Linked DNA regions of Homo sapiens: all the other regions are reported to be linked to region 1. Evidence: microRNA targets listed by miRTarBase, many of them from high-throughput screens and not tested one by one. Region 1 holds a microRNA gene; each other region holds the end of a gene's coding sequence.
The links. Region 1 holds the annotated microRNA hsa-miR-654-3p (UAUGUCUGCUGACCAUCACCUU, at 1,319-1,340, opposite strand). A microRNA usually pairs through its seed, bases 2 to 8, with sites in the 3' UTR of a target mRNA and lowers its output. Matches are read on the target gene's strand: a 7mer-m8 pairs with bases 2 to 8, a 7mer-A1 pairs with bases 2 to 7 and ends in A, and an 8mer does both.

Region 1 (3,259 bases):
TCTTGGAAGGAAGCATGAGATGAGGAGGGTCAGAGAACCAGGTCACAAACAGCAAGACAGAGGCACATGCCCTGTGGTCAACCATCCACACCCCAGGGCTATCCTGGCCATCTAACAGGTTGCTGGAGTCAGCCTTGTTCCCAAGAAGGCTTCCCAGGCAGGATTTGCTCCCCAGAGAGAGTCTGCCCTTGTATAATCATTGCAAGTAAAGCAAATGCGTGAAGGATTACCTCTCTTCAAGTAGCAAATGATGGCAGTGACAGGAAGGCCATTTCCTCTGTGACTAAGTTGCCACCAGCTCCAGGAGCAAGCCTTAGAGACACAGATGGGATCTGCATGGTGAGAGCAGCACACCGAGGTGTGAAGTGCAGGCCCGTGGGTGAATCACACATCTATTCCTTCCATAGCCCCTGAAGCAGTGCCCCTTCCTGAAATTGACAGCCCACTCAGGTATTCTCTAAGGTACAACTAGTCACAGTAAAAGAGGTTCATTCCAGAAAATGCATTGCAATCATGGTAAACATACAGAGAACAAACTTCATTCAAGGTCAATGAGGCAATACTGAGAACACAGCCTTGTAACAACACATTATGTGTGCACCAAGGGCAGTGAGCAAACAGCAGAGAAGCTGACGGCGTATTTCATACAAAGTACAATTCTGTGTCTGTCCGTCCTGTACCCAGGAGGGGTACAGATAACATCTCCTCTTCCATGGCGACTTCACGTCCTCCGAGGTTTTCAAAGCAGCATTTGATACTGAAAACGTGGATTTTCCTCTATGATTAATCATAAATAATGTACTCATAGAAGGAGAATCTACCTTTTAAATACCAAAGAAGGATTCCATCCAGGAAAGCGTGCACCTGTGCTTGAGTCATCAGAAAAGAAAGTCACATGAGGCAGACGAGCTTCCAGGGAAGAACTGGCACCACGAGACCCACAATTTAATCTTCACCAAGTTGGCGTCTCGAGATGGTTCTCGGGCATACCCCGTTCATTCAGATACGACGTGCGGCCTACCATCTTTGCACCTACTCAGGCCCTACGGTCTCTTCCAGAAACATTTCCAAAGCAGCATTTGATACTGAAAACATGGATTTTCCTCTATGATTAACCAGGAATCACGTAAACATAGAAGGAATATCCACGTTTTAAATACCAAAGAAGGACTGGGCTCTGGAAAGGACAAATCTGAACACAGTTCATGGAAAATGGAAGCAAGACAGTAAAGCAACCGTTTTCAGTCCCGTAGCATAGCTGTGACAACACACCACAGCCTGTGCACCAAGCTGGCTCCTCAGCGAAAGGGGGCTTCTAAAGGTGATGGTCAGCAGACATATGGCACGAACTCAGCACATGTTCTGCGGCCCACCATCTTTCCACTTACCCTGGAGGGCTCAGCCCCACCTCACGTCCCTGATGGTGGCTTCAGTCCAGCCATGATCCCAAGGCAGCATTTGATACTGAAAACGTGGATTTTCCTCTATGATTAACCATCAAACACGTAACCATAGAAGGAAAATCTACCTTTTAAATACCAAAGAAGGTTTCATCCCGGAAAGCACGAACCTAAGTACAATCCATCAAACACAAAAGTAACATAGCACAGAGGAGAGCATTCGGCCTCATGGAGAAAATGACGACGGAGCCCAGCCGCTTGGCCGAGCGGGCAGCTTGCGAGAGGGGTCTCCTCAAGGCGGGTGGGTGGTCCGCAGACATATGGCACGAATTCAGCACATGTTCTGAGGTCCACCGACTTTCCACTTACCCTGGAGTGGGGGGGGGGACTTTATTGTCTCTTCCCTGATGGTGGTTTCAGTCCAGGAATGTTTCCAAGCAGCATTTGATACTGAAAACGTGGAATTTCCTCTATGTTTAACCATAAATAACATAAACATAGAAGGAATATCCACCTTTTAAATACCAAAGAAGGATTGAGTCCTGGAAAGCATGAACCTAAGCACAATCTATCAAAATTAAAGACAGCACAGGATAGGTGCAGTCGGCAGGGGCCTCCCGGGCTAGCGGCAGTGACATGGGCCCTGCGGAGGACGCATGTCCCAGGACAGACCTTGCTAACAAGAGCTTAGGTTCTGGGATTCACCTTCCATCACTCTCCGCATGGGGGAGGGAGCTAACCTTCCTCTCAGAAATGTTCAGAAATGTTTTAAAAGCAGCCTTAGATACTGAAAATGCGGATTTTCCTCTATGATTCACCATAAATCCTGTAAGCATAGAAGGAACATCCACCTTTTAGATGGGAAAAGTGGGAACAGCCCTGGAGAGCACAAACGCAAACATGATTCATGAAAGACAGAAGGTAACAGAAGCAGGTGAGCACTTTGCGAGTCCCACGTGGGAAGCGCAGGGCCCACCCCTGGCCTCTTCACATCCAGAGATGGAACTCCTATGCAGGCAAACGTAAGTTTGGGGTCTGCCCTGCTGTCACTCGTCTGGGTGGGGGTAACCCTAATGTCTCTTCCCTAATGGAGGCTTCATGGTCAAGAGCGTTTCCAAAGTAGCATTTAATTCTGAAAAAAAAAAAAAAAAAAAGTGAATGTACATCAAAAATTTGCCACAAGTAAAGCAGGCAAAGTAGGGATTCTATGCTTTGAATTCGAAAAATATCAAAAACAAAAAGAAAATAAGCCTGTCAGGTTCCTAAAGTCACATCGCCTCCATGAAGCCCTCCCAAGGCACCTAATGACCAATGTCATGTAACTGTGGGCTGGAGCATCCTTCACATACCTTGGAGGGAGAAGGACACCCAAGAATCTTCCAGAGACTGAAGCTTGTGTCCAGAAAGTTTCAATCGGCAGGACTGGTCATGTTGGTGTGACAGACTGAGGAATAGGCAAACAGGTCAAAAACAATGTCTCTTTAAATACAACTGAGAGAGGTAGCAAAACATGATGCTCACCAGCCCCTACCACCACCACCCTCCACCACCACCACCACCACCACCACCAACACCACCAACACCACCACCACCAACACCACCACCACCACCACCACCAGTACCACCACCACCACCACCACCACCACCAACACCACCACCACCAACACCACCACCACCATCAGTACCACCACCACCACCACCACCACCAATACCACCAATACCACCACCACCACCACCATCACAACCACCACCACCAACACCACCACCACCAACACCACCACCACCAACACCACCAGTACCACCACCATCACAACCACCACCACCAACACCACCAACACCACCACCACCAACACCACCAC
Region 2 (3,227 bases), not on the chromosome of region 1:
TTTGCCCAGCGACAGAGCTGCATGAATACGTTTGCCAGCTGGTTTGGCTACATGCCGCTGATCCACTCTCAGATGAGGCTCGACCCCGTCCTCTTTAAAGACCAGGTCTCTATTTTGAGGAAGAAATACCGAGACATTGAGCGACTTTGAGGAATCCGGCTGAGTGGGGGAGGGGAAGCAAGAAGGGATGGGGGTCAAGCTGCTCTCTCTTCCCAGTGCAGATCCACTCATCAGCAGAGCCAGATTGTGCCAACTATCCAAAAACTTAGATGAGCAGAATGACAAAAAAAAAAAGGCCAATGAGAACTCAACTCCTGGCTCCTGGGACTGCACCAGACTGCTCCAAACTCACCTCACTGGCTTCTGTGTCCCAAGACTAGGTTGTGTACAGTTTAATTATGGAACATTAAATAATTATTTTTGAAATGATTGCTATGCAGGTTTAAACTTTTTTAATGATCAAAACTATTAAAAACCAGAGTTCTTTGTTTAATCAAAATTGTGTTGGTTGTGAATATTTCAAAGCTGCTATTCCTTTTCCCACAGACATCATTGTCATGGCCATGTAGGGTGCCCTGCAGTTTCAAAAGCTCAAACTTCGTGGAAAACACAATAAGTCACTCTACCCATTATCAAGAAATAACTGAGCATAAGTTGTAACTTCATTATTCAACTTTGCCAGTGCAAATTGTTTTCCACTTCGAATCTTCAAATCCACTTGAACTTTTATCTCTAAAATGTCGCTGCATGAAAGAAAGTATTACGACTTCCAGGTAGGCAGTTCTAACTGAAATCTCTATGTTTGAGATAGATATATATGATAATCGTTTTTCATTGGGGGGGTGGGGGGAATTAGTACCAAGAAAACACTAGTATAATTAAGAAATGTTCAGTTTGCACAAAGAACTATCCAGATAACCCACCAGCATGTTAGTGAGATGGAAATACAGACCCACAACAGTAACCCAATACTTGCAGGGGTTGGGGGCACGGTTATAGATTCAACCATTGACCTAAGTCTGCGTAGCACTGGGAAGAGGCTTTGGTTTAGAAGCCAAGGAATAATGAGTATATTGGGGAGAACAGATTATTTACAAGATGAACTCTTTAATGTTTGTGAGAATCTCAAGTTTCAGAGTTTCTCTTTTGAGAAAGAAAAAGGGGTAATAAGGTAGAAATTCACACCAATGAACAAGAGGATTGCTGCAAAGTAACTGAGGAGATGTCTCGCCATTGGGACCCTAATGCCATTTTTGGTCAAACATTGTTTTGAGCAAGAATCTGGCAAACAAAATAATCAACAACAAATGTGAATATAGTTTCATTTACTTTTAATTTTTAAATCTGTGGAAAAGTTTAGTTGTGCTTCTTGTTAAAAAGAACATTTCTATCCCTGAAAATGCTATCTTGGGCTTATGATTATTGTTAAACTCCAAGTATAAACTGAAAAAAAAAACATATCCCTAACTCTGTTATGAAAAATGGAGACTTCTGATATTAAATGCTTTCTTCTACTTGGAAGAGGCCAGAGAAAACAGGGAAGAGAAAGACATTATTGAGTTTGACCATGTATTATGCTGAATAAACAATAAGCACTTTAGAGTCCCTCCCTCAAACTCTCATACATTTCATATTTCTTTTCCATTTATTTTCAGTTTTGTTTTAGAAGAAAAGTTCATCAGAGAATTTTGTTCTGATAATTTCAAGTGGCCATCTTAGGTCAGTGGAAACCGTAAGTCCATTGGACTTTACCTCATCCTTTCTTTGTAGACATCTGGGAGAGGAAGAGGAGCTTGTAATGATAGCACGGGGATGGTGCTGTAAACAGGAGTGAAAGTGTTTGTGGAAGTCCAGAGAAGTGACTCAACAGGCTACCTAGCTGCAGAACAAGGAGTAGAGCCCACATATCCAGATGGTGTTTTGAGAGGTGCGTAGACAGTGAAATTCAATTAAAGAGAGGATTTTCTCCTCAGCCTCATGACTCAGAACAGCTCCCTAAATACCTCTCTCATCTAATTGGACCCATCCATAGTCCATTCTCAAACATGTGACATTTTCCCCTAAGTAGATGTGATTATCTCTTAGGCATTTGTTGAAAAATAATTCTTAGGTCCATGGTGCTTGCACTTGTGTCTTTTCTATAAAATGTTTGGTCTTACAGGTTTCATGTCATTTAAGCTGCACTTCTCAGCAAGTTAAAAGATTAGCAGTTAATCTTTATTCATTTGGCCTTTGTGAATTTGTATTTAAATTATTTTTTTCAGGATTGGCAAATTATTCTTGTTTCTCCTTTACCAAAAAATAAATGCGATATTTTGTTCAATGACCCCAAAACCAACTTGAAACTTAGGTGGTCATATTGGCTTGCAAAGCAATGTCCCTAATTGTACCAGTCAGTCACACAAGTGGATTCAAGGACCTGCTTTGCCAGATTGACCTGTCACCAAGCTCACAACACATATCCTCCACAAACAACATGTGTTATGTGAAGAAAAATGGTAATTATAAATAAGAACAGGATATAACACACCTTTCATCCACTTTAAATCTCCACAGTTTCATTTTATGTCATTCTCTGAGCAAATCTCTTTGGGATGTGAGCTAGCGTGTTCTTCTCCCATTTGGAATATAAGGCTGGGAATAGAACAATGCTTAACAAATCAGTGAAGCTCGACAGTAATATGTAATTTTAATTCAGTTAGGAAAGAGTTGTATTGCATTGCAACAAGTTGACAAATCATAGCCATCTCTGTAGGGTGTCAGGAATTATCTCCTGGTCAACTTTAATGATAACTAGGGGTCCCTAAGTGGGCTAACATGTGCTGCATTGGAGAGAAGCCAAGGGCTGAGAGTACAGTGCCAACCACGTAATGAATTGCTTGCAGAAATTCCAAAGAGGACTCAGCCACTTATGGATTTCCACACAGCATCTTTTCCCAGCTCCACATTAAGACACAGGATCTTAAAAGTAATTTTTTAAAAGCTGGCTGTGTATTTATTTATATGAAAGTGTTATAAATATCAAAGCTTACAAATACATTAATACATATCACCTTTGTTGAAGCTAGCAAAATGGCTCAAAATTGAGACTGTAGAGAAAAATCCATGAAATAATCACGATAGTCATACCACAAAAGATAGCATAGCTAGGTGGGCCTACCTGGTCGTATCAACACACTTTCAGATAGATGCTTCAAAAAAAAAGGGAAAGCTTGTTACTGGAATCT
Region 3 (3,259 bases), not on the chromosome of region 1:
CTTCCCGTATTTTTTTTTTCCTGCTCTTATGTTCTAGAAATTTTTTTTTCTTCCAAGAAGATGAAGAAACCTGGGTTCTTGTCACAGCAAGAGAATTGTCTAGCTGTCATGAAGAATAAGCTTAGCTCTTGCTTTTCTGTGCTTTCCTCAGACTGTAACAACAGCAGCCACAGAACTTGCAGGACCGACATTTTTTGTTCTCATTTTTTCCTTTAGATATCTCCACAGGACCTTCTTGGTTAAATCAGGGACTACTTCTGAACTCTACCCAATCAGTTTCAAATTTAGACCTGACCACTGGTGCCACCTTACCCCAGTCAAGGTACGTATTTTTTTCAGGGTTAGAAAGGCAAACCCCAGAGCCCTGACTGTCTGTGTAGGGGTGAGCCGGGGTCATGTTACTGCCAGCACAGGTCCTGCTGAGCAGGTTTGTGGCAGATCTCACCAATGGCACCTCCTTCCTGTTTTTATTCCTATGTTTTACAAAACTGTTTATACCACATTAATGAGCCTGTGTGTTTTTAATTGTTTGCTAGTGTAAACCAAGGGTTATGCTTGGATGCAGAAGTGGCCTTAGCAACTGGGCAGTTCCTGGCCCCAAACAGTCACCAGTCCAGCAGTGCGGCCTCTCACTGCTCCGAGTCCCGAGGCGAGACCCCCTGTTCGTTCAATGATGAAGATGAGGAAGATGATGAGGAGGATTCCTCCTCCCCAGAATAAAGACAAGAGAAAGCCTACGTTTCAATATGTGATGCTCATGTGTGTTTGTAGTGTGAGCTCTTGTTTTTGAAATGATTGCTTCAGTCTTTGCCTTTGTTTGCACTGTGTGTTCAGTGAAAACTAGAGAAACACAATAAGCAAATCACATGAAGGCTGAGATGATTGAGATGAAAGTTAACATAGTGTGAATGAAAGTCTGGCCAACAGAGCAGTAGATGATATAACAAAGAAAGCATGCTTTCTGAGGAGATAGTGGGGATAATCCCTGAAGAGTTGGCAGTGTGAGTGCAACTCATTTATCTTCTGTGAGGTGGGATTTTTGTGTTCCTCACACCCATGTAATTATTCTTAGAATTGAGATTGCTACACGGAGCAGTCCTTGACGATCGTGTTTCTGACGTTTCTCTTCCTTGCCTGGACTGCCTTTGACAAGGCAGAAATGAACATGAAAAGTCCCCAGGAGAGGGGAGCTGTGTAGTGAGGGATACTGAGGGCAGTCCTGTGGCTGAGGGGCACAGATTGAACTGCTGAACTAGTTGGAGGTCTAGATGAGGTGCTTTACGCATCAGCTGCCTTAGACAGCTTCTAGAAAGGAGCGAGCGCTACTTCTTAAGTACTTAAGTGACATTTAGATAATTTATAGTAAAACTGAAATTATTATTAGCCAATGCATTGGTGCATAGAATTTACTAGGGCTACTTCTGGAAGCCAAAATAGAATAGCATTTCCATGTGCATTAAATACTTTGCCAGCACTGCCTTTGCCAGCATCCTAAATCTGGAGTTTTACAAAGAAGGAAACTGTATCTTTAGGTTAATCAAAGCTATGCATTTCATATAGCTTTTTCATTTAAAACAAGACAAAGAAACAAATTCCTATGACCAAATTGCTTGCCTACAGTTCCCTGCAGTAATTGTATGATCTCACCCAGTGTGCAATTTGTGAAAATGAACCAAATGTCATTACTTTTGTCTTAAAGAAAAGTCTATTTCAAGAATATGAACAGCAGTGTTTCCTTGTACATGTCACCTTTTTTCACATTTTCATTAATCAGAATGACCTTATTGAGCCTACTCCTGGGGTCAATTGCATTTCAAACTAATCCAATATTTAGTGTTTCACAGAAACACTAGAAAACGTTGAACACTCCTACTGCCTGGATATATGGTAGTGCAGTTATGTTGTTTATGGCTCAAGATGTCATTAGAAATACTGCAGTGGTGTATTCACAGCTGCTCCTTCTCTGAATGAAAGAGTGTAGGGACACCTGCCACCATGGCCAGACCCTGACTGAATTTCACATTAAGGCTTTGGAAAGGAGCAAATAATAATGGGAGAATTAACTCCAAAACTTTGACCTGAATCATGTGGATTTGTCCCAAGATTATGCTAGATGCACCAAGCATGGCCCAAATTGGTTCTTTTTTAAATCCCATGGGGGAAGTGCAGGCTCCTTCCTGTGGTGCCTCTTTATAGCCTCACCACCATGCTAACACTGAGCATGGTGAGGAGGAGGAAGCTTTGGCTAGCTAAACATGTTTAATAAGGCCATAAAAACTGAGAAAGAAAAACATTCAACTTTAGCTGAAGCTCCTTTGATACAAAAGTTTCATTCTGTCAGAAATAAGCCATAGTACAGACTCAGAGATAGAGGCAGTTTCTAGAGAACTCGGTCTTATCGTGGGTTCTGGAGCACACCTCTCAGACCAGTCAGGAACACTGGGGAGGTGACAGCAGGTCCCCAGGGGCCTGCAGGGAATCTTTCAGCTGCACGGATTGGGATTTCCCTCCAAACCAAACTGTCCTTTAAGGGGCAGCCTCCTCTTTTACTAACTCCACCCTTTCTCATCTCTGGGACCCAGCAGGGACCTGGAGAGGCCAACAGCCACTGCTACCTTTGTAGTCTTCAAAATATTGAACTGCAGGTCCCAAGATGCATTTCAGGATTTAAGACAGGTGCACTAATGATAACCATTCCTTCACCAAGTAGCAACATTCTTGCCAGAGTTCTTGGGAAACCTGTTTTTTTCTCTACTCTCCATCTCTGCTGCTCTCATGCTTTAAATTGATAAAATATGGGCTCAAAAAAAGAAAGCCGCCAAAGACTCTTATCCTTATTGGTGCCCCATCATTGGCCACCCCAGCCATAGGTGTGTGCTGTTGGTGGGAAATGGTCTCCTTCCTCAGCGTTGTGTTTGGGTTACTGGTGAGGCCAGCTCACAGAGTGACATCATGGTCACCAGTACATGTCGCTGGAGTAAAATCTTGCCTTTAGAAACTAGGTTGAGCTGTTCAGAAAGGTCAATTCTCTTCTGTATTCCCCCTCAACATTTATCTGGGTCTAAAGCTCAGCACTGAGTCACAATTTCACACAAGATCAAAGTGAGGCAGTGTTAGGAAACCATGGGCTGGGTGCAGTGCCTCTCGCCTGTAATCGTAGCACTTTGGGAGGCCGAGGCGGGCACATTGCTTGAGCTCAGGAGTTCAAGACCAGCCTGGGCAACATGACAAAACCCTGTCTCTACAAAAATACAAAAAT

Region 2: miRTarBase lists EXT1 as a target of hsa-miR-654-3p. Seed matches in the 3' UTR shown: 7mer-m8 at 544-550.
Region 3: the mRNA of TFDP2 is a reported target of hsa-miR-654-3p. The part of its 3' UTR that is shown has no 7-base or 8-base seed match.

Annotation. Positions count from the first base shown.
Region 1 is chr14:101,038,350-101,041,608 of GRCh38, reverse strand. MIR654 (microRNA 654) reads right to left here and starts at 1,390; the gene lies at 1,310-1,390. MIR376C (microRNA 376c) reads right to left here and starts at 1,919; the gene lies at 1,854-1,919. It overlaps MIR376A2 (microRNA 376a-2), which reads right to left and starts at 1,540; the gene lies at 1,461-1,540. MIR376B (microRNA 376b) reads right to left here and starts at 1,173; the gene lies at 1,074-1,173. It also overlaps MIR376A1 and MIR300.
Region 2 is chr8:117,796,635-117,799,861 of GRCh38, reverse strand. It overlaps EXT1 (exostosin glycosyltransferase 1), which reads left to right. Exons shown (of 11, transcript NM_000127.3): 11 at 1-3,227. The coding sequence ends at 150. Among named protein-coding and RNA genes, the nearest start is that of SNORD168, 120 kb to the left of the region's middle.
Region 3 is chr3:141,949,974-141,953,232 of GRCh38, reverse strand. It overlaps TFDP2 (transcription factor Dp-2), which reads left to right. Exons shown (of 13, transcript NM_001178139.2): 12 at 217-322; 13 at 537-3,259. The coding sequence ends at 720. Among named protein-coding and RNA genes, the nearest start is that of ATP1B3, 75 kb to the right of the region's middle.